6 linked regions of the Homo sapiens genome follow. The protein of the gene in region 5 purifies or fractionates together with the protein of the main gene of each other region. This does not show direct contact. Each region holds a gene or a part of one and is shown on either strand. Other genes may lie near its edges.

What was found.
Region 1: the proteins of CCDC13 (region 5) and CCDC18 purify together in Homo sapiens (co-immunoprecipitation; one study listed by IntAct). This does not show direct contact.
Region 2: the proteins of CCDC13 (region 5) and PCNT purify together in Homo sapiens (co-immunoprecipitation; one study listed by IntAct). This does not show direct contact.
Region 3: the proteins of CCDC13 (region 5) and CEP350 purify together in Homo sapiens (co-immunoprecipitation; one study listed by IntAct). This does not show direct contact.
Region 4: the proteins of CCDC13 (region 5) and CEP72 purify together in Homo sapiens (co-immunoprecipitation; one study listed by IntAct). This does not show direct contact.
Region 6: the proteins of CCDC13 (region 5) and CEP131 purify together in Homo sapiens (co-immunoprecipitation; one study listed by IntAct). This does not show direct contact.

Annotation. Positions count from the first base shown.
Region 1 is NC_000001.11:93,204,724-93,208,223, forward strand, and holds part of CCDC18 (coiled-coil domain-containing protein 18), read left to right. Parts: intron 1-786; coding exon 787-908; intron 909-2,383; coding exon 2,384-2,675; intron 2,676-3,500.
Region 2 is NC_000021.9:46,327,156-46,330,655, reverse strand, and holds part of PCNT (pericentrin), read right to left. Parts: intron 1-3,500. UniProt on the Homo sapiens protein: Integral component of the filamentous matrix of the centrosome involved in the initial establishment of organized microtubule arrays in both mitosis and meiosis. Plays a role, together with DISC1, in the microtubule network formation.
Region 3 is NC_000001.11:179,957,810-179,961,309, reverse strand, and holds part of CEP350 (centrosome-associated protein 350), read right to left. Parts: intron 1-3,500. UniProt on the Homo sapiens protein: Plays an essential role in centriole growth by stabilizing a procentriolar seed composed of at least, SASS6 and CPAP. Required for anchoring microtubules to the centrosomes and for the integrity of the microtubule network.
Region 4 is NC_000005.10:632,840-636,339, reverse strand, and holds part of CEP72 (centrosomal protein of 72 kDa), read right to left. Parts: intron 2,572-3,500; coding exon 2,393-2,571; intron 969-2,392; coding exon 756-968; intron 1-755. UniProt on the Homo sapiens protein: Involved in the recruitment of key centrosomal proteins to the centrosome.
Region 5 is NC_000003.12:42,763,254-42,766,753, reverse strand, and holds part of CCDC13 (coiled-coil domain-containing protein 13), read left to right. Parts: intron 1-3,500. UniProt on the Homo sapiens protein: Required for primary cilia formation and promotes the localization of the ciliopathy protein BBS4 to both centriolar satellites and cilia.
Region 6 is NC_000017.11:81,212,966-81,216,465, reverse strand, and holds part of CEP131 (centrosomal protein of 131 kDa), read left to right. Parts: intron 1-3,500. UniProt on the Homo sapiens protein: Component of centriolar satellites contributing to the building of a complex and dynamic network required to regulate cilia/flagellum formation.

The sequences.
Region 1 (3,500 bases), on a different chromosome or scaffold from region 5:
GTCTCACTAGGTACTGAAATCTTTTTTTTTTAAATTTTATTATTATTATACTTTAAGTTTTAGGGTACTGAAATCTTAAGTGTGAATTAGTTAATCAGAACGCTGTTTTGAGAGCTAAAGAGGGTCCTTGTGGGAATGAAATATCTTAGAAGGGATTTTTAATAAGGTGATCAGTAAGGGGAGGTAGAAGACCTAGTAGGAGGAATATGCTTGGGGAGAAGAAGGACTTTATGGAGAAGGAGAGAAGAATGTAAGAGACAGGTTTTGTTTTTTTACACTTAGGATTATCAATTGCAAACAATGCTCAGCAAAGCCCTATAGTTAGGTGGATGTAACAGGGTAACAAAGGAATTGGGGCAGATCTACCCAATCTTCTCCTCTCAACAGTGTATCTTGGGTGCTTTTTTCTGTTCTACATTTTGGGCTGTGGTTTCGTTGGTAAATTTTGTGGTTCAAATTTCAAAAGTAACTTCTCTGGAATATTTGCACTGAAATTAACCTTTAGTAACTCGGACGCAGCAGCTGTAGATGAATTTTTGACTTCAGTTGATGCAATTGCCTATCTGTTACAGGTTTTCTGGACAGGTAGTAGTGTCTTTTTCTCTGTCCTTTGCTACTGCCCAGGAACTTCACTTTGCTTCTTTTCACTACAAGGCTGGGGACTTAAATGTATGAAATTCTTAGTCTACTCTCCTGCTTATTTCTGAAATCACTACTGACATTTTTAGCTTGAAACACCTAAAACTTACAACCACATTAGTATGTCCACTTAAATTATTGTTTTAGGTTCAAGCTGAAGAAGAAATATTAGAGAGAAATCTAACTAACTGTGAAAAAGAAAATAAAAGGCTACAAGAAAGGTGTGGTCTATATAAAAGTGAACTTGAAATTCTGAAAGAGAAATTAAGGTACAGTATTCTGTTGTAGAAAAAGGATTTTTGTGTGGACATGGAAAAAACTGAAACACTTTAAAACACAATATTTTATTGTTGTAATTATAGGCTTACATTATATAGAAGGATAGGCTTCATGACTGAAACTGTTTTCTAGCTATAGAGTTAGAATTAGAAGTGAAGTAAAATGTGTTAATGCTAATAATATTTGTAAATACGGAGACATACTGATCAACATATTTGCTTTGCATATATTTAGAGAAAATTAATAGATATAATGTCCTTGATGTATAACCACATTAACTCACTAGTAAAATGTGTATAATATCCGATGTTCTAAAAAAAAGTGTTTTTCAAATCATAAAAAATTACCTAGTCCAGACTTCTCATTTTATAAGTAAACAGAAGCCCCGAGAGTAGCCAGAATTTACTGAAGGTCTGAAAGATCGAAGTCTTCTGACTCCAATGCTCTCTTTTAGTACATCATGTTGTCCTCTCAAAACTAACACCCATCAACTTTCAGAGGTTAATATTAACCAGTCTTTATCACTTCAAACTGTTAATTTAAAAAAAAGGGGGAGCAGGAAGCAATCAATGACTGATTTGTCTAATTTTGCCATACTTTCCTTAAGGTAGTCTGTTTAGTATTTTTGCCAAGGAGGAGGAAGTAAAGATACTTTTTACTAGAGTATTTTTTAGAATCGGTTATCGATTGCAAGATATACTTTTAAGAAAGAAAGATGCTGCCAATTACACTATGATGCAATCCTTTATCACTTAAAATTTTTATACTTCATGAAAGAATTCTTGTATTTGTAATTAGATATGATTTCTTAAGTCGTTATTTTCATATTTTTCAAAAAAGTTATTCTCATATTTCAAATATAAGTGAAATAAATTGGTTAAGATATTTTTAAAACTTCACATTTGGAGTCTAACCCTCTAAAATGTCTAAGTTTTTCCTCACAGTATCTCCCAGTGTGCCATTAAGACTTGTTGATGCAGTATTTCTTAAAAGAATCCTTGTAAGAACAGAAAGTCATTGATGCTGGGCTCTTAAGCTGGTTGTACAATTATGTAGAGCCAGTTTACTTTTTCTCCTGTTTTAGGAATCCAAAACTTTGTTGATAATGTGAAATGCTATGTCAGGGATTTTGAAGTTAGATTTCCTGTCTTATATAATTAAACAGGGAGCAGAAATGCTTTTAAGACAGTAGGGCTGTCCTTCCCTACCATTTACTGTGAGACACTAGGAAAGTTATATAACCTTTTTGTGCCTCAGTTACCTCATCTGTAAATAAGAAGTAATAATAGTGCCAACCATATAAAGTTGTGAGTGCCTGGCATGCAGAAAGTAGGTATTTAGTAAATGTGAGCAGGTATTATTTTAGAATTAAGCTTCAAAAAATTTTAAAAGTGAGATTAAATAAATATGATTAAAATGAATGCATATATATTTTATTTTCATTTTTATTCTCTTTTCTTCATAGGCAGTTAAAAGAAGAAAATAACAACGGAAAAGAAAAATTAAGGATCATGGCAGTGAAAAATTCAGAAGTCATGGCACAACTAACTGAATCTAGACAAAGTATTTTGAAGCTAGAGAGTGAGTTAGAGAACAAAGACGAAATACTTAGAGACAAATTTTCTTTAATGAATGAAAACCGAGAATTAAAGGTCCGTGTTGCAGCACAGAATGAGCGACTAGATTTATGTCAACAAGAAATTGAAAGTTCAAGGGTAGAACTAAGAAGTTTGGAAAAGATTATATCCCAGTTGCCAGTAAGTATGTGTGATTACGTAATGGAAAAGAAGAATTTTACTAAAGTGTTTTAGAAAAGACTATCATTTTGTGGTTGCTTTATTAGCTTCTAATTTCTTTTTCTCTATACTTTTAGTCATGAATTTCTCTTCTGTCTAAATCTCTATTTTTTTTCCTGCACTTACCATTCTACACTTTTCCCCAGTTTCTCAGATGCCATATATAAGAATGGCACAGAATTTTTTTTAAACAGCTTTGTTGAAGTATCATTTATATACCATAAAATTTGCCTGTTTTAAGTGTACTAATCTATGATTTTTAGTAAATTTATAAGTTTTGTAACAATCACCATGATCCAGCTTTGAAACATGTCTGTCATCCCCAAAAGGTATTTTGGACCCATTTATAATTAGTCCCTGTACTCACTTCTACCCCTAGGAAGACACTAATAGTTTTTGCATCTGTAGATTTGTCTTTTCTGGACATTTCACATAAATGAACTCGTATAATATGTGCTCTTTTGCACCTGGTCTTTTGCATTCTTAGAGTCGTTCATGTTGTGATATCAGTATTTCATTTCTTTTTATTGCTAAATAGTATTTCATTATATAGATATGTTATATTTTGTTTATCCATTCACTGGCTGATGGACATTTGGATTGTTTCCACTTTGGGATATTATGAATAATGCTGCTATGAACGTTTGCATACAAGTCTTTGGACATGTTTTCATTTCTCTTGGGTAGATACCTAGGAGTAGAATTCTTGGGTCATATGGTGAATTTATTCCAAACTGTTTTCCAAAATGTCTACACTATTTTACATTCTCACCAGCAATGTATGAG
Region 2 (3,500 bases), on a different chromosome or scaffold from region 5:
TTTTATAATACATATGAAAAAAACTCCTTTTTAGACTGAACTGATGATGTACAATGATATAATCAGAAAAAAGTTAATGAAATATCTGCTTCTAAAGCACCAATGGTTTTTATATACATAATTGACAAAATGGCTTAAGAAATTTGATTCCTAACTTAGTGTACAGCAGAAAGACAATGGCTCTATTCTACACATACTACTTAGTTTACCTATACATGTATAAAGAAAATAAATTTTAGCCAGGTGGGATGGCTCACACCTATAATTCCAGCACTTTGGGAGGCCGAGGTGGGAGAATTACTTGAGCACAGGAGTTTGAGACCAGCCCTGACAACACAGTGTAACACTGTCTCTACAAATTTTTTTTTAAGTTAGCCAGGTATGGTGGCACATGCCTGTAGTCCCAGGTACTAGGGAGGCTGAGGCAGGAGGGTCACTTGAGGCCAGGAGGTCAAGGCTGGAATGAGCCATGATTGCGCCACTGCACTCCAGCCTGGTCAAGAAAACAAGACCCTATCTCAAAAAAAAGGGGGAAAAAGCTGATGTCCAAGATCCAATAGGGGTTAATACCTGATGACTGCATGTTTAGCTTATTAAAATGTCAGGAATTCTGTGGAAAAAGCTGACTGGTACCTGACCTTTGCCCACCATTTTAGAGCCAATGGACAGGAAGAGGAGGTATGTCTCTGCTGATGTCAAGCTGTAACTGTGCAGAGGAGTTCAGGATGACGATGTGAGATGAAAATCAGTCAGGCCCTGCCATGCCTTCATTCCATGAAGAATCCTGGCTGCAGGAGCACATACTTTTCCTAGAGAAAGTATCCTTACATTTTACCAGCTTTTGGTTTTTAAAATACTGCTTTAAACAGTTAAGTTACTACTCACAGCAACAGTTATAAGTAACAGAATGCTTTACCTTGGCCATCTTGCCATTGTTTCACCAAGTTTTGTGAAAGCAGACCTCTCCTCACATCTGCCACACCACCCCACGCTTGAGGGTGAAGTGTCCTGTCCACTGTGGTCACGAGGAGGTGACACAAAATGCAGCAAGTGCAGTGAGTGTGCGTGTGCATCTCTAAGTCAAGGGGACCAGTAATGGGCCTGTTATTTATAGATTGCTTTAAGATGTCCAAAATACATGTTTTATTAGTGGTATAGTTAATTCTAAAATGAAAAAAAATGTTATATAAGTAACCTAATGTGTTTATTGTAGGAAATACCAAAAACCATAACAACGAAAAAACCAACAACTCTATTCCTTTCTGACCACCACTGTTAATTTTCTGGTATATGCCCTTCTGGTTTTGAAAACAAAAATCAAAATGCTTTTCATCAGATCATCTTCCTGAATGAAGGCATGCATCAAATAGCAGAGTTAGAAACTAAGAGAGTCTCTACCTGATGAAACAGCAAAGTATGAGTGTTTAATCAGGAGTCTATACCATGCCTTCTAATGTTAACGACCCATCAGTCTCCAAATACAATTTACCACAAAATGTGCTAAGTTTGGAATGGTTTTCTGATAGGATCCTGAGATTCCCACATATATTTATCAGCTTACTACTTTTAAAACGTCTATGCAGGCCAGGCACAGTGGCTCACGCCTGTAATCCCCACACTTTGGGAGGCCGAGGCAGGTGGATCACGAGGTCAGGAGTTCGAGACCAGCCTGGCCAATGTGGTGAAACCCCATCTCAACCAAACAAATACAAAAATTAGCCGGCCATGGTGGTGCCCACTTGTAATCCCAGCTACTCGGGAGGCTGATGCAGGAGAAACGCTTGAAATCGGGAGGCAGAGGTTGCAGGAAGCAGAGGGCGTGCCGCTGCACTCCAGCCTGGATGACAGAGTGAGACTTCGCCTTAAAGAAAAAAAAAAAGTATGTGCAACCAGAGGGCCGGGTGCAGTGGCTCACGCCTGTAATCCCAGCACTTTGGGAGGCCAAGGTGGGTGGATTGCTTGAGGTCAGGAGTTGAAGACCAGCCTGACCAACATGGTGAAACCCTGTCTCTACTAAAAATACAAAAATTAGCTGGGTTTGGTGGCAGGCGCCTGCAATCCCAGCTACACGGGAGGCTGACGCAGGAAAATCGCTTGAACCCAGGAGGCAGAGGTTACAGTGAGCCAGGACTGCACCACTGCACTCCAGCCTGGGCAAAAGAGTGAGACTCCATTTCAAAAAAAACCAAAAAACATATGCAACCAGAATATATCAAAAGTAACTTTCTGCCCAGCAAGGTGGCAGAAATCCTGTAATCCTGGCACTTTGGGAGCCTGAGGCAGGAAGATCGCTTCAGCCTGGGAGGCAGAGGTTGCACTGAGCAGAGTTCGCGTCACTGCGCTCCAGCCTGGGCAACAGAGAGACTGTATCTTAAAAAGAAAACGGGAAAAAAAAAAAAAACACACCAACCCAACAACCAAAAACACTCAAGAGATAAAAAGCAAAATTCAGGATTTGTAGGTAGAATAACACAAATTTTAACTGTTGCCAACAACTCAATTTTTTAAGTAAAGCAGGATACATACATTATGACCTTGAGCCAGATTCTGCCTTTGGCCACCAGTTTTCCAGCAAATCCTAGCAAACATCAAAGCCTGCACCCATTCTGCTGCAGCAGCAGGGACACTCAACACCTAAGGCCCTCGTTCATAATTCATACAAAAGGCCCAAGGACAGCCCGCCTCCAGGCAGGTTTGTAGGCCCCCAAGGAGCCCGGAAGGCCAGCCCCTTCAGGACTCAGTGTGCACTCACCTGCCACACCTGCCCATGGGGGTGCCCCTGCAGCTCACAAGGCCTCAAGCAGCAGACCCAGTCTCCTCCAGCAACACACCATGTCTGCAACACCTTCACCCCTTCCCTCTTCATCTCACGTTTAGTAAAAAGGTAAAAGACAAATGTGACAAGCAGGTGCATTTACAACTATGTGAAGGAATATTATGTTTTAAATGTCCCAAGAAACACCCATCAAAGGGGCTGACACGACCACACACGAAGAACTCCCAGTCTTCCATTACAAAGCAAACAACTGACACTTGTCTTCAAGTAGTTAATCCAAAACTTCTCAAAATTACATAATAAAGATAAAACAGGGCCAGGCGCAGTGGCTCATGCCTATAATCCCAACACTTTAAGAGGCTGAGGAGGGAGGATCACTTGAGCCCAGGGGTTTGAGGCTGCAGTGACCTGTGATCACACCACTGCACTCCAGGCTGGGCAACACAGCAAAACACTGTCTGGAACAAACAAAAGAAAAAAAAAGAAAAAGAAAACCCAAATTTATTAAGAATAAAACCATAGGCCGGGCACGGTGGCTCATGCCTATAATCCCAGCACTTTGGGAGGCCGAGGCGGGCAGATCACGAGGTCAGGAGATTGAGACCATCCTGGCTAACACAGTGAAACCCCACCTCTATTAAAAATACAAAAACTAGCCGGGCGTGGTGGCGGGCGCCTGTAGTCCCAGCTACTTGGGAGGCTGAGGCAGGAGAATGGCATGAAC
Region 3 (3,500 bases), on a different chromosome or scaffold from region 5:
CGCCGAGCTAATTTTTTTGTATTTTTAGTAGAGATGGTGTTTCACCACGTTGGCCAGGTTGGTCTTGAACTCCTGACCTCAAATGATCTGCCTACCTCGGCCTTCCAAAGTGCTGGCATTATAGGCATGAGCCACCGCGCCTGGCCATGAGGCTGTTTAAAGTAAAACTTTGAAAAGTGAAACTTTTGATTCATTATATGTATACACATACACGTATAACACACATCTATTCTTTTTATTTAAAAAAATAAAAAATAAAGATAAATGTAAAAAATCAACCTTTGGGAGCACAGAACATGGAAAATATATATAGGTGTCCTGGTCAAAAGTTCAAGAGGTTCCTAAACTTTCTCAGTTCACAGACCCCTCAGTATGCCAGTTATTTTTTTCATGGAACCCCTAGGCCAAAAAAATACCTAACAGTTCCATTTACTAAGTAGTTCAGTCCACAACCTAAAAAGTATTTATAGCCTACCAACTTAGTAGCAGATCGAAAAATAAATATGTATAAATTGAAATAAATATTTTTATTACTAAATTACCACAACTACTTAATAGGATGTGTGTACCTACTAGATATTACACAAGTTCTCAAATCTTGAAATCATTTTGGACACCACCACCTTCATTTACTGTTCCAAATTGATTTTTGCATAGTACTTGCTTTTTATCACAGCAAACTCCCAAAACCTAGCGTTTGGAAGACACAGTGTCATCAAAAAAAATGGAACACAATCTCTTGTGTGGTATCTCAAACTGGTAGTTTGAGTAGTGTCCTATAGATGTCAAATATCCCACAGCTATCCAATATTGCTGTTTCCATTAAAATTTCTCAAATAATGCATAGTGTCCAGGTGAGTTACTATGGTGCTCCACAGTACGGCAGGTCCTCCATAACATAGTTTCATTCAATATCATTTCTTCACAATTTTGATGAGAAAAAAATTTTGATTTCCCCACCAGGGCTACCATCTATGTGGAGCCTGCATGTTCTCCCCATGTCTGTGTGGCTTTTCTCCGTATGCTCCAGTTTCCTCCCACATCAGAGAGGTGCACGCATTAGGTGAACTGACATGAATTGGCATGTCTATATGGTCCCAGTCTGAGTGAATGTGGGTGGGTGGGTGGGTGTGTGTGTGTCTGTAAATGCTACCTGCAATGGAATGGCAGCCTATCTTGTGCCCTACTTGCCGGGACAGGCTCCAGCCACCTGCCATCCTGAACTGAAATAAGTGGGTAATTATCTTGTTTTTAGTATTTCTTAAATGTATGCATAGGACCCATTTATTTCAATGTTTAATATTAGAGGTGTTTGGGGTCTTAGAAGTTGCAGTTTCCAAGTACTTATGGACAACATTAAGTGAGGATTTACTTCAGTGCACAGTTTAGGAATACTGGATTTAAGAAACACTGATCTAGCCTACGGGTTTACTTTGTAAAGTAAGAAATAAGACTTAAGGCTACAAAGCTAGGAGAAAAACAAATATATTTATTATAGATTTTCCTAAATTTCAACCTTCTGCCAACAAAAGTTTTTTTGTTTGTTTGTCTGTTTTGAGCCAGAGTCTTCCTCTGTCACCTAGGCTGGAGTGCAGTGGTGCAATCTTGGCTCACTGCAACCTCTGCCACTCAGGTTCAAGCAATTCTCCTGCCTCAGCTTCCCCAGCAGCTGGGATTATAGGAGCCTGCCACCATGCCCAGCTAGTTTTTTACTTTTAGTAGAGATGGGGTTTCCTTATGTTGGCCAGGCTGGTCTGAAGCTCCTAATCTCAGGTGATCTGCCCGCCTCAGCCTCCCAAAGTGCTGGGATTATAGGCATGAGACACCGCACCCAGCCAACAAAAGTTTTGTTTGTTTTGAGATGGAGTCTTGCTCTGTTGCCCAGGCTGGAGTGCAGTGGCAGTCTTGGCTCACTGCAACCTCCACCTCCCTGGTTCAAGCAATTCTCCTGCCTTGGCCTCCCCAGTAGCTGGGATTACAGGCCTGCCACCACGCCTTGCTAGTTTTCGTATTTTTAGTAGAGATGGGTTTCGCCTTGTTGGCCAGGCCGGTCTCGAACTCCTGACCTCAAGTGACCCACTTGCCTCGGCCTCTCTAAGAGCTGGGATTACAGGCGTGAGCCACCAAGTCCCAGCCCTTCCATCAACAAATGTTTTGACACAGGATCTAATTATGAGACACTCTGTTGATGAAATGTGTAGATCTCTAAAAATCACATTCAAAAATACATTTATATCACTATTTAATAGAAGAAAAAATTTACTTCCTTTTTTTAGAAAAAAGTTTCAAAAATTATAAAAGTGATTCTTACAATAAAACCATACAAAAATGTCTAAAGTAAAAAAGAAAAGTCATCCACTCCCTCAGGAATAACATGTTTAATGTCTATCCTTATAGACCTTTTTCTATTCACATGCAAAATGAAAACAAAACTACATTTGTCTATGTGTTTTTTAAATAAATCATATTCTATAGTATAGTGCAACTTATTTTTTCACTTAATTTTATATCATGAACATTCTTCCAAGTCAATACATAATTGTAACAGCAAACACTTATGTGGCGCTTATTAATGCTTATTTAGGGCCTAACTGTTAACTCATTTAATTCTCATGGTACCCCTGTAACATGAGAACTACTAGTATATCCAATTTATAGTTGACTTTAAGTAATTCGCCAAGAGTCACAGCTAGAAAGTAGTGCAGTTAGGTTTTGAATCCAGAAGGTCCACCGCATGGTTCCAGGAGCTGAAGGATATGCTCAGCTGCTGCTCATGAAGTAAATATAGATACCCTGAAACCTGTTAACAACTGCACAGTAATTCACAGCATAAAAATACTAGACTTTTAACTATTAGCCTACCAACAGACATTTAGGACATTTTTAAATTATTTATAAATGTTATTGACATCTTGAAATAATGCTAATATAAACATTCTTATACAATTCCTATGCTGTTAAAATTTATGTAACATAAATTTTAAGCAGGAAATGATTCTATCAAACAATATATATACTTTTAATCTTGATAGGGAATGCCAAATTTCCTTCCAGAAGGTTGCTCCAATGGTATCAATTTATAGTCCCAACTACAGAGGAAAGGGTTCAGATTCATTTTTAAGTTAACACTTTGGATTCATGAAAAAAAAGGCCCATTTTGAGTTTTTAATTAATACTGAATAGACTGCCAAGTTGATCACAATTATGTTCTGATTTTATAATTATCTGACATATTAAACAAATGTAGACTTAGCAGCTGTGCAATGGATTCTTCTCCCAGTTATGAAATCAACTATGCATGAGATATCGCCCCTATACAACCTTCTGTTTTCTTATGTATAAAATATGGGAATTGGACTAGCTGGCCTTGAAGAATTTAAACTCCCAATACTGAGATTAAGAAGTGACTTAAAGTTATTACAAGGCTATAATTATAGTACTAGTATAACAGGTTAGGGTCTTAAAGTTTATATTTTCTTTAAATTACCGTAACCTGTTGC
Region 4 (3,500 bases), on a different chromosome or scaffold from region 5:
GTGCAGAGAAAAAGCACTTATTTACCAACCATGAATCTAAACCATGAATGGATTATAAATTTCAATGTGCTGCATTCTTTCCAAAGACATTTTGGAGAGTTCCACAAACAAATAAATACACAGAGAACAGGAGAAATTTCATAGTAAAAGCAAACGATGTGAAAAATATTTAACTACTTAAAAAGGAACTGAAGGGAGTAAAAGTTGACAGGGATTTCATGTTGCTGTAGTTCGAAGGAACCCCCCAAAGTTCCTAAGCTGGAAACTTATTGCCACTCTAACAGTATTAAGCGGAGGGCCTTTAAGAGGTGAACAGGTCACAGGGCCAGCCCTCAGGGAGGCAGGAATGCTGTAGCACAGGGCTGGGTTCCTGATAAAGGATGAGTCTGGAACAGGTCACAGGGCCAACCCTCAGGGAGGCGGGAATGCTGTATCGCAGGGCTGGGTTCCTGATAAAGGATGAGTCTGGAACAGGTCACAGGGCCAGCCCGCAGGGAGGCAGGAATGCTGTAGCGCAGGGCTGGGTTCCCGATAAAGGATGAGTCTAGCTCCATTTCTCTGTCTTGAGCTTGCTTCTGCCTGCACCATGCTTCTGCCTGTGCCATGGGAGGACCAGCACCAGGTGCCGGCACCGTGCTCTTGGACTTCCCAGCCTCCAGAACCATGAGCCACATAAGCTTCTGTTCTTTATAAATTACTCAGTCTGTGGTTTTCTGTTACAGCAACAGAAAACAGACTAAGACACGCGTAAGTACCTGGGTGTGGGGTGAAGTACGTGTGTGGCCTGGGGGCACGGGAGGCCTCTGGCTCCGCTCCGTACAGTGGCGGAAGCTCTCCACAGAGCTGGCTCCAAGGCATCTTCTCCAGACAGCACCCTCTGCAGCTGCTCCTCCTCGTCTCACGGCCCTGCTTCCCAGAGTCCCCACACTGGTACTGTACCAACTGCGGGCTCAACAGATGTCTGGATTCTATTAAAATATTGTAAATAAAATATTTCATAAAACATTGTAAAAGTTTTATTCCATCAAAAATTACATTTTAAGCTTCTGAATAGTGTATGGTATCTGTTAGACCGAGGGGTTAATCACGTGCTGGGTGACACTGAAATGAATCCACAGTGACTTCTAACAGCAAGAGAGCTTGGAACTGGGAACTGGCGCCACTCGCCTGCGAGACTCAGGACAAGGCTGCAAGAATCCAGCCGCATGAAGTGGAGCAAAGTCAGACAAAATGATGCACAAAACAGAAGAGAGAGTCCAGACAGTCTCAATACAAAATTAGCTGGGTGTGGTGGTGGGCGCCTGTAGTCCCAGCTACTTGGGAGGCTGAGGCAGGAGAATCACTTGAACCCGGGAGGCAAAGGCTGCAGCAAGCCAAGATTGCGCCACTGCACTCCAGCCTGGGCGGCAGAGCAAAACTCCATCTCAAAATAAACAAAACAAAAAACAAAATAAACTGTGCCCTTCATAAACTGGACTGTAATGAAATTAAAACTTGTGCTCTTCAAAGCACTGTTCAGATAATGAAAAGGCCAGCCACAGAAGGGAGGAAATGGGCAGCCCTTGTGCCTGAGAAAGGGCCTGTGTCAAAACCACCAAGATCTCTTAGGACTCAATACTAAGAGAAGCAACCCCAGAACAAAGGTGGGCAGACCTGGAGAGAAAAGAAGAGACAGGCACGGCCAGTATCTCAACAGCAGCGGATGCAAATTAAAGCCATAAACACAGACCACAACCCCCTGACAGAGCAGCTAGGATTAAAGGACTCAGCTCCCAGTGCCGGCAAGGACATGGCTCGAGCACCGCTGCCACAGGGCAGACATCTTTGCACAGATGAACCTAAGATTTCAGCCCAAACTCAGGTCTCCACCTGTTGTTTCCACGAAAAGTTCTCAGAAACTCACAGCGGAGGTGGAATAAATGAAGCTAAAGCCCATCAGCACATCCCAGTGGAGGGCAGTGCCACCGGGCAACGGAGTCTCCGAGACACCCTTGCTGGGATCTACAGGTCTGCACGTGGCGGCCTGAGCTCAGGGTTTCCTGCAAGTTCGGTGACTATGCCCCCCTGCAGCTGCCGCAGATGTCAGCCCCACTTGCCACAGGACACTAGGCTTCTTGTCTGTTTTAGACAGTTTGCCTTTTCCTGTGATCTCAGAAGGATACAATTTAAACCATCATGCAGTATGACTATACTCAAATATGTTAACTTTCTCATTTATAACTCTGTAGTCCAAATGGCTGGCATTCGAAAGCACACAAAGACACATCATGAAGATCCTATCCTTCAAGGTAAGTTCCACAAAAAGAGCAACTGTGGACTCCAAGCCCAGTAACGACTATATATATCCCAGAGCCAGCGGACCCACTGGCCTCCTGGCAGATGAGCAGCGCACCTTGGGAACCACGAGAGTCGGCCTCACGCCCCTTCTGGCTGAAGCTCGTGCTCCCGGGAGGCCTGCCGAGGTCCCACTCGCACTCTGCAATGAGGTTCAGGACTGCCTCGTCATCCGCATCCATGACCAGGCTCTGCTTGGCCAAGGCCTCGGTGCACTTGGCTCTGGGGTGGTGTGGTCTGTAAGGAAAAGCAAACTCATCAGCATCACTCAAGCCAGCCATATGCTCCGGCCCACGCAGACCAGGAGAAGGAAAATTCCTGCACGGTCTCTGAGAGAAGCAGCGTGCTGCAAACGTGGGGCAGCCGGGTCCTGTTGCTTCCACTGCAGTGATGCTAAAGAGTGACTCACCAAGGACAATCGGTGAGCAACAGCCAGGTTACGTGATAACATGACAGCATCCCGGCACTGGACAGAACCCCACCAGGACTGGGCCAAATCCCAGCACTGGACAGAACCCCACCAGGACTGGGCCAAACCCCGGCACTGAACAGAACCCCACCAGGACTGGTCTAAATCCCGGCACTGGACAGCACCCCACCAGGACTGGGTCAAATCCAGCACTGGACAGAACCCCACCAGGACGGGACTAAATCCTGGCACTGGACAGAACCCCACCAGGACTGGGCCAAATCCCGGCACTGAACAGAACCCCACCAGGACTGGTCTAAATCCCGGAACTGGACAGCACCCCACCAGGACTGGGTCAAATCCAGCACTGGACAGAACCCCACCAGGACTGGTCTAAATCCCGGCACTGGACAGAACCCCACCAGGACTGGGCCAAATCCCGGCACTGGACAGAACCCCACCAGGACTGGTCTAAATCCCGGCACTGGACAGCACCCCACCAGGACTGGGTCAAATCCCGGCACTGGACAGAACCCCACCAGGACTGGTCTAAATCCCGGCACTGGACAGAACCCCACCAGGACTGGGCCAAATCCCGGCACTGGACAGAACCCCACCAGGACTGGTCTAAATCCCGGCACTGGACAGAACCCCACCAGAACTGGTCCAAATCCCGGCACTGGACAGAACCCCACCAGAACTGGTCCAAATCCCGGCACTGGACAGAACCCCACCAGGACTGGTCCAAATCCCGGCG
Region 5 (3,500 bases):
ATGTTAAACCAGCCTTGCATACCTAAAGTAACTCCTATTTGGTCATGTGGTATAATTTTTCAAATACATCATTGGATTCAATTTGCTAATATTCTTGGAGAGGAAGTTTGTTTGTTTGGTTGGTTGGTTGTTTTTTTTTTTTTTTCTTTGAGACAGGATCTCGCTCTTTTCCCCGGTCTGGAGTGCAGTGGTGCAATCATGGCTCACTGCAGTGAGAGGAAGATCTGAGAATTACCTCCCCTCCTTTCACTTGACTGGCCCATCAAACTCTTTCTTTGCTGCAAAACTCGCTGTTTTTAGTGCATTGGTTTTCTGAACAGCAGGCAAGATGAACCCGTCAGGCTGTTACTTGCTTCCAGCTGTCTCTTCTTCCTCTTCCCTCTCCTTCCCTCTCTCCCACCTCCTCACTCTACACCTTCTCCTCATGCTGCTTTGTTCATACTCTAGGTCTCAACTACCTGAGGCTCCAGCTCAGACTTCCCTTCTGAACCCCAGACCCACCCAGCATCTCAGCCAGCCAGCTGCCCACCCAGCATCTCAAAGTCCACCACCTTGTCTGCAGCGTGGAAAACTGCTCCTCTGTCAGGGCCTGCTGTCTCCCCAGTCACTCAAACCCAAACCGCCTAGGTTTCTCCCCTCTCCTTCTCTGCATAGTTGCCTTCAGTCCCTTCCATTTGGCAGCAATTCCTCTTCCCCCTCCTCCATCTCCACTGCTACAGTTTTGATTTAGGCCCACATGGCTTCCCAGAGACCCCCTCCTAGCTAGGCCCTTTGCCTCCAGCTCTGCAGAAGGCAAAGCTGATCCTGTGTGCACCCTCTGAACATCTCCAGCGCCTCAGGATAAAGTCCAGGCTCCTTAGCTGGGCAGATCAGACCCTTCTTCTGGTGCCTCCCCAAATGTGCCCTGCCCTCTGGCCATTCTGAACCTTTCATAGTTCCCCACACTCATCACATTCTCTGCACATGCTGTTCTGGCAGGAGAGCCCGTTGCCCCCCACTCAGGCACCGTCCCTTCCCCACCCAGGTGAATTTCTTCTGCATTCAGCTTCAAATTGACTGAGATGCCTGTCTCTCCTGCAGCTTCTCTCTCCCCAGACAGCCTCTCAGAGTGCTTAACACCTCTCATTCTCAAACCAGCTGAACGTTAGGCTCACCTGGGAAGCTTTAAAAATACAAAAATGTTAGCTGGGCGTAGTGGTGCATGCCTGTAGTCCCAGCTACTCGGGAGGCTGAGGCAGGAGAATCGCTTGAACCCAGGAGATGGAGGTTGCTGTGAGCCGAGATCGTGCCATTGCACTCCAGCCTGGGCAACGAGAGTGAAACTCCATCTCAAAAAAATAAAAATAAAAATAGACACCCTGGCCACAGCCCAGATAATTAATTTCAAATCTCCACTGGCCTCATGAATAGCACAGATTAGATACTAATACTCTGGGGGCCGGTCTGGACCACAGGTGTCCTCTCAGTGCAGGCATTACTGTCTATCCCAGAGGCTCCGTTGGGCCAAGAGCACCACTTTTCATACAGTGATAATGATAATTATTTCCATGCATTCTTCCACTTAATCTCACAAACTCCCTGTGAAGTTCGTAAGTATCAGAGTCCCATTTTACAAATGGGAAACGAAAGCAAAGAGGTTAAGTAATTTGCCTGGGGCACAGTGTACATTCAATGAGTACCAGTTCCTCAGTGACTTCAAGTGCAAATTGGGAGTAGAAAAGGAGAAAAGCTTTACAAGTTACTGTGTTCATTCATTCAGTGACAATTCTACAAATGACAGTTGAAGGCCTGTTCTGGGCAAGATGTTGAGATTTAGCAAATGAATAAGGTATTAGGACCCCTGCCCTTAAGAGGTCTCTTTGTAAAGGGAAGTAATGTAAATAAAATAATAGATAATTATAATACACTGAGGTTAAGTTTAGTGATCAAGGGGTGCCCTAGGGATTCTGGGAGTCCACAGAGTGCCCTGAGGGGAATCCTAGAGGCTAACTGGGAGTTAGTGGGAAGGTAAAGGGCTGGGATGGGGAGGCCTGGGAGGAAGGCCTCCCAGGTAGAGGAGTGGCTGAAGCCAGCCTCTGAGATGCCACTGGGCTTAATCCACAGCAGGAGCCACAAACCCAAAACATCTGCTGTGGCTGATGGGAAATAAAAGTGAATCCAGCAGGTTTAAGAGAAAGAACAACATTTATGTGCAGTGATAATGGGCAGCTGATGTGCCAGCTGCAGCATCTGGAGGTGGCAGGGACAGTGGTTTAATGGAAAGAACCTATTATGCACCAAAGGAACTCTCTGCATAGCAGCTGCTGTCCGTGTGGGACGATGGGCCCAGCATTGCCAGATCTGTAAACTTTTATAAAAGAAGCTGGTGTAAACTAAACATAAAATTCAGAGGCCCCCCATCCATCTGAATGGACTTCCTTCTCAGCCAGGGCACTCCAAAGTTAACCTGAAAGACCAGTTCAGGCCTTGATGGGAAGCAAGGGTTGGACACGCCTCATTATACCCTCCTCCCTTTTGGAATTCAGGAAAAGTTGACCAACATTTAACATCAACACAGACCTTAAGTCTGATAAGAAACATTTACAATCTATTCTCTCTGAAGCCTGCTACCTGGAGGCTTCATTTGCATGATCAAAACTTTTATCTCTTTTATTCTAACCCAGATATTCCTTTCTATTTATAGTAACTCTTTTAACCAATTACCAATCAGAAAAATTTTAAATCTACTTATCACCTGGAAGCTCCCCCCTCCCAACCTTGGAGTTGTCCTGCTTTTCTGGACCAAATCGGTATATATCTTAAATGTATTTGATTGATGTCTCAGGTCTGCCTGAAATGTATAAAACCAAGCTGTGCCCTGACCACCTTGGGCACGTGGTCTCAGGATCTCCTGAGGGCTGTGTCACAGGCCATGATCACTCACATTTGGCTCAGAATAAATCTCTTCAGACTGGGTGCAGTGGCTCACACCTGTGATCCCAGCACTTTGGGAGGCTGAGGTGGGTGGATCACTTGAGATCAGGAGTTCAAGACCAGCCTGGCCAACATGGTGAAACCATGTCTCTACAAAAACATACAAAAATTATCTGGGTGTGGTGGTGCATGCCTGTAGTCCCAGCAACTCAGAAGGCTGAGGCAGGAGAATTGCTTGAGCCCAGGAGGCAGAGGTTGCAGTGAGCCAAGATTGTGCCACTGCGCTCCAGCCTGGGTGACAGAGCGAGACTTCATCTAAAAAAAAAAAAAAAAAAAAGTACATCTCTTCAAATATTTTACAGAGTTTGACTGTTTTTGTTGACACTGGAAATCTGATATTGAAACTACAATTCTTTGAATGTTGGCAACAAATTCAAATCCTAACATAGTGTTCTGTAAGAGCCAAACAAAAATGTCTGTGGGATGTGTTAAACTAACTGTAGCCTAAAGCTGCCTTCTTATATATTCTAAGTTCAGCCTAAAGGTTTCTCTGTACGTAGTAAACTGTAACCTGACTAGGAATTTAA
Region 6 (3,500 bases), on a different chromosome or scaffold from region 5:
TCCACCTCCCGGACACAAGTGATCCTCTTACCTCAGCATCCTGAGTAGCATGGATTACAGGTGCTCACCACCCTGCCCAGCTAATTTTTAATTTTTTTTTTCTTTTGAGACAGACTTTTGCTCTTTTTGCCCAGGCTGGAGTGCATTTGTGAGATCTCGGCTCACTGCAGCCTCTGCCTCCCGGGTTCAAGGGATTCTCCTGCCTCTGCCTCCCAAGAAGCTGGGATTACAGGCATGCACCACCATGCCCGGCTAATTTTGTATTTTTAGTAGCGACGGGGTTTCGCCATGTTGGTCAGGCTGGTCTTGAACTCTTGACCTCAGGTGATCCTCCTGCCTCAGCCTCCCGAAGTGCTGGGATTACAGGTGTGAGCCACCACACCCAGCCTACTAATTTTTAATTTTTTTGTAGGGACAGGGGTCTCACTAGGTTGCTGGTCCTTAACTCCTGGGCTGAAGCGATCCTCCCACCTCGGCCTCCCAAAGTGCTGGGATTACGGGTGTGGGCCGCTGCACCTGACCCTGCTCCCGCTTTCCTTACATTGTTTTGTAGCAGCTGACAATAGTTCATCAGATGATGCACCAGAACTTCACCCAGTGCTCCTCTGGATTTTCCTTATCATAGTACCAAGAGTGGCACAGCAAATACCCTGTGTCTTTGCCATTTTGCATACATGTAAATACGCCTGTAGAATAAATCCTAAAGGATAACTACTGGGTCAGAGCATAAGTCCATTTAAAATTTTGAAAGGGGGGCCAGGTGCGGTGGCCCGTGCCTGTAATCCCAGCACTTTGGGACGCCGAGGTGGGCAGATTGCTTGAGGTCAGGAGTTCGAGACCAGCCTGGCCAACACGGTGAAACCTCGTCTCTACTAAAAATAGAAAAAATAGCTGGACGTGGTGGCAGGCACCTGTAATGCCAGCTACACAGGAAGCTAAGGCAGGAGAACTGATTTAACCCGGAAGCTGGAGGTTGCAGTGAGCCAAGATCGCACCACCACACTCTAGCCTGGGTGACAGCGAGACTCCATTTCAAAAAAAATTAAATAAATAAAAAAATTTGAAAGGGGGCCGGGAGTGGTGGCCAATATCTGTAATCCCAGCACTTTGCGTGGCTGCGGTGGGAGGATCACTTGAGGCCAGGAGTTTGAGACCAGCCTGGGCAACATAGTGAGACCCCTGTCTCTACAAAAAAATTAAAAAATTAGCCGAGTGTGGTGGTGCATGCCTGTAGTCCCAGCTACATGGGAGGCTGGGGCAGGAGGATGGCTTGAACCCAGAAAGTTTGAGGCTGCAGTGAGCTATGATCATGCCACTGCTCTCCAGCCTGGGCAACAGAGTGAGACTCTATCTTTTAAAATTAAAATTAAAACTAAATTGTAAATTTTTGGCCAGGCGCGGTGGCTCATGCCTGTAATCCCAGCACTTTGGGAGGTTGAGGCAAGCAGATCACGAGGCCAGGAGATTGAGACCATCCTGGCTAACACGGTGAAACCCCATCTCTACTAAAAATACAAAAAAAAAAATTAGCCGGGCGTGGTGGCAGGCACCTGTAGTCGCGGCTACTCGGGAGGCTGAGGCAGGAGAATGGCGTGAACCCAGGAGGCGGAACTTGCAGTGAGCCGAGATCGCGCCACTGCACTCCACCCTGGGCGACAGAGCGAGATTCCGTCTCAAAAAAAATTTTTTTTTTTGATAGGCATTGCCAAGTTGCTGTCCGTAAAGATCATTGCCCTAAGTCACACTCGCATCACAGGGTGCCACGGGGCCTGCTCCCTCGTGCTCTGGTTGGCACACGTGCAGCACAGTTTTGGCCTTTACAGGATCCATATGTAACAAAAGATATCTGACTGTACTACCTTTTAGTTTACTTTTTACTTTTTATTTTATTTTTTTCTTTTTCTTTTTTGAGATGAAGTTTCACTCCTGTCACCTAGGCTGGAGTGCAATGGTGTGATTTCACCTCACCGCAATCTCTGTCTCCTGGGTTCAAGTGATTCTCCTGCCTCAGCCTCCCGAGTAGCTGGGATTACAGGCGCCTGCCACCATGCCGGGCTAAGTTTTGTATTTTTAGTAGAGACAGGATTTCACCATGTTGGCCAGGCTGGTCTCAAACTACTGACCTCAAGTGAATCCGCCCGCCTTGGCCTCCCAAAGTGCTGGGCTTACAGGCGTGAGCCTCCGGCGTGACTGTACGATTTTTAAAAATAAACCTTTTATGTTAGTATAGTTTTAAATTTATAGAAAAATTGGAAAGTGCAGGGTGTTCCCCTGTACCGCACCCAGTCTCTGCTATTTGAATATCTTACATTATGATGGGACGTGTACAATTAACAAGTCATTATTGGTAAATCACTGACTAAAGTCCACACTTGATTTGTATTTTTGCAGTTTTTCTTTTCTGTCCCAGGATCCCACATGATTTTTGGGCTGTGGGTCTCAGGCTTGTTTGGGCTGTGAGTTTCTCAGACTCTCCTTGTTTTTGATGACCTTCGAGTTTTGGGGAGAGCTGGTCAGGGATTTTACAGAATGGCCCCCTGTTGGCCCTTGCCTGATATTTTTCTCGTGATCAGACTGGGTGGTGGATGGGTTCTAGGAGGAAGGCCACAGAGGTAAAGTACTCTTCTCACCCCATCCTGTCTGGGGTCCACACTGTCCATGTGACCTCTCACTGGTGATGCTGCTGGCCTTGGTCCCCTGGCCAAGGTGGAGGGTCAGGCTTCTCCACTGTGAGGTCGCCCATCCCCTGTGCTCTCTGGAAGGAAGTCGCTTTGTTCAGCCCACATGGAAGGGGTGGGGAGTTTTGCTCCCCCTCCTTTAGAGAAGAGCATCTATAGAAGTTATTTGGAATTCTTCTACACAGGAGATTTGTCTGTTCACCCTCATTTATAATTTTTTTTTTTTTTTGAGACAGTGTCTCACGCTGTCGCCCAGGCTGCAGTGCAGTGGCATAATCTTGGCTCACTGCAATCTCCGCCTCCCGGGTTCAAGCGATTTTCCTATCTCAGCCTCCTGAGTAGCTAGAACTACAGGCGTGTGCCACCACACCTGACTAATTTTTGTATTTCAGTAGAGATGGGGTTTCACCATGTTGGCCAGGCTGGTCTCGAACTCCTGACCTCAAGTGATCCTCCTGCCTTGGCTTCCCAAAGTGCTGGGATTACAGGCATGAGCCACTGCACCTGGCCCCACTTATTAATTTTTTCAATCATTTATTATAATGGACTCGTGGATATTTATTTTACACTTCAAGTTATAATTCAATGCTAGTTTGCTTATTTTGTTGCTCTCATTGTCACAGCTTTGGCCACTGGGAACTTTCAGGTGGCTCCTGGGTCCCTGTGTCATTGCCCATCACTTTGTCTTCTGAGCACGTCCTTATTTCTGGCCCTATAAACTGCTCCAGCCTCATCTTGTCTATTTCCTCCTCCAGTCCTAGAATCAGCCATTTCTTCAAGAAGCCCCGGTTCTTTTTCTTGGAGAGTGGTCTCAGAGACCAA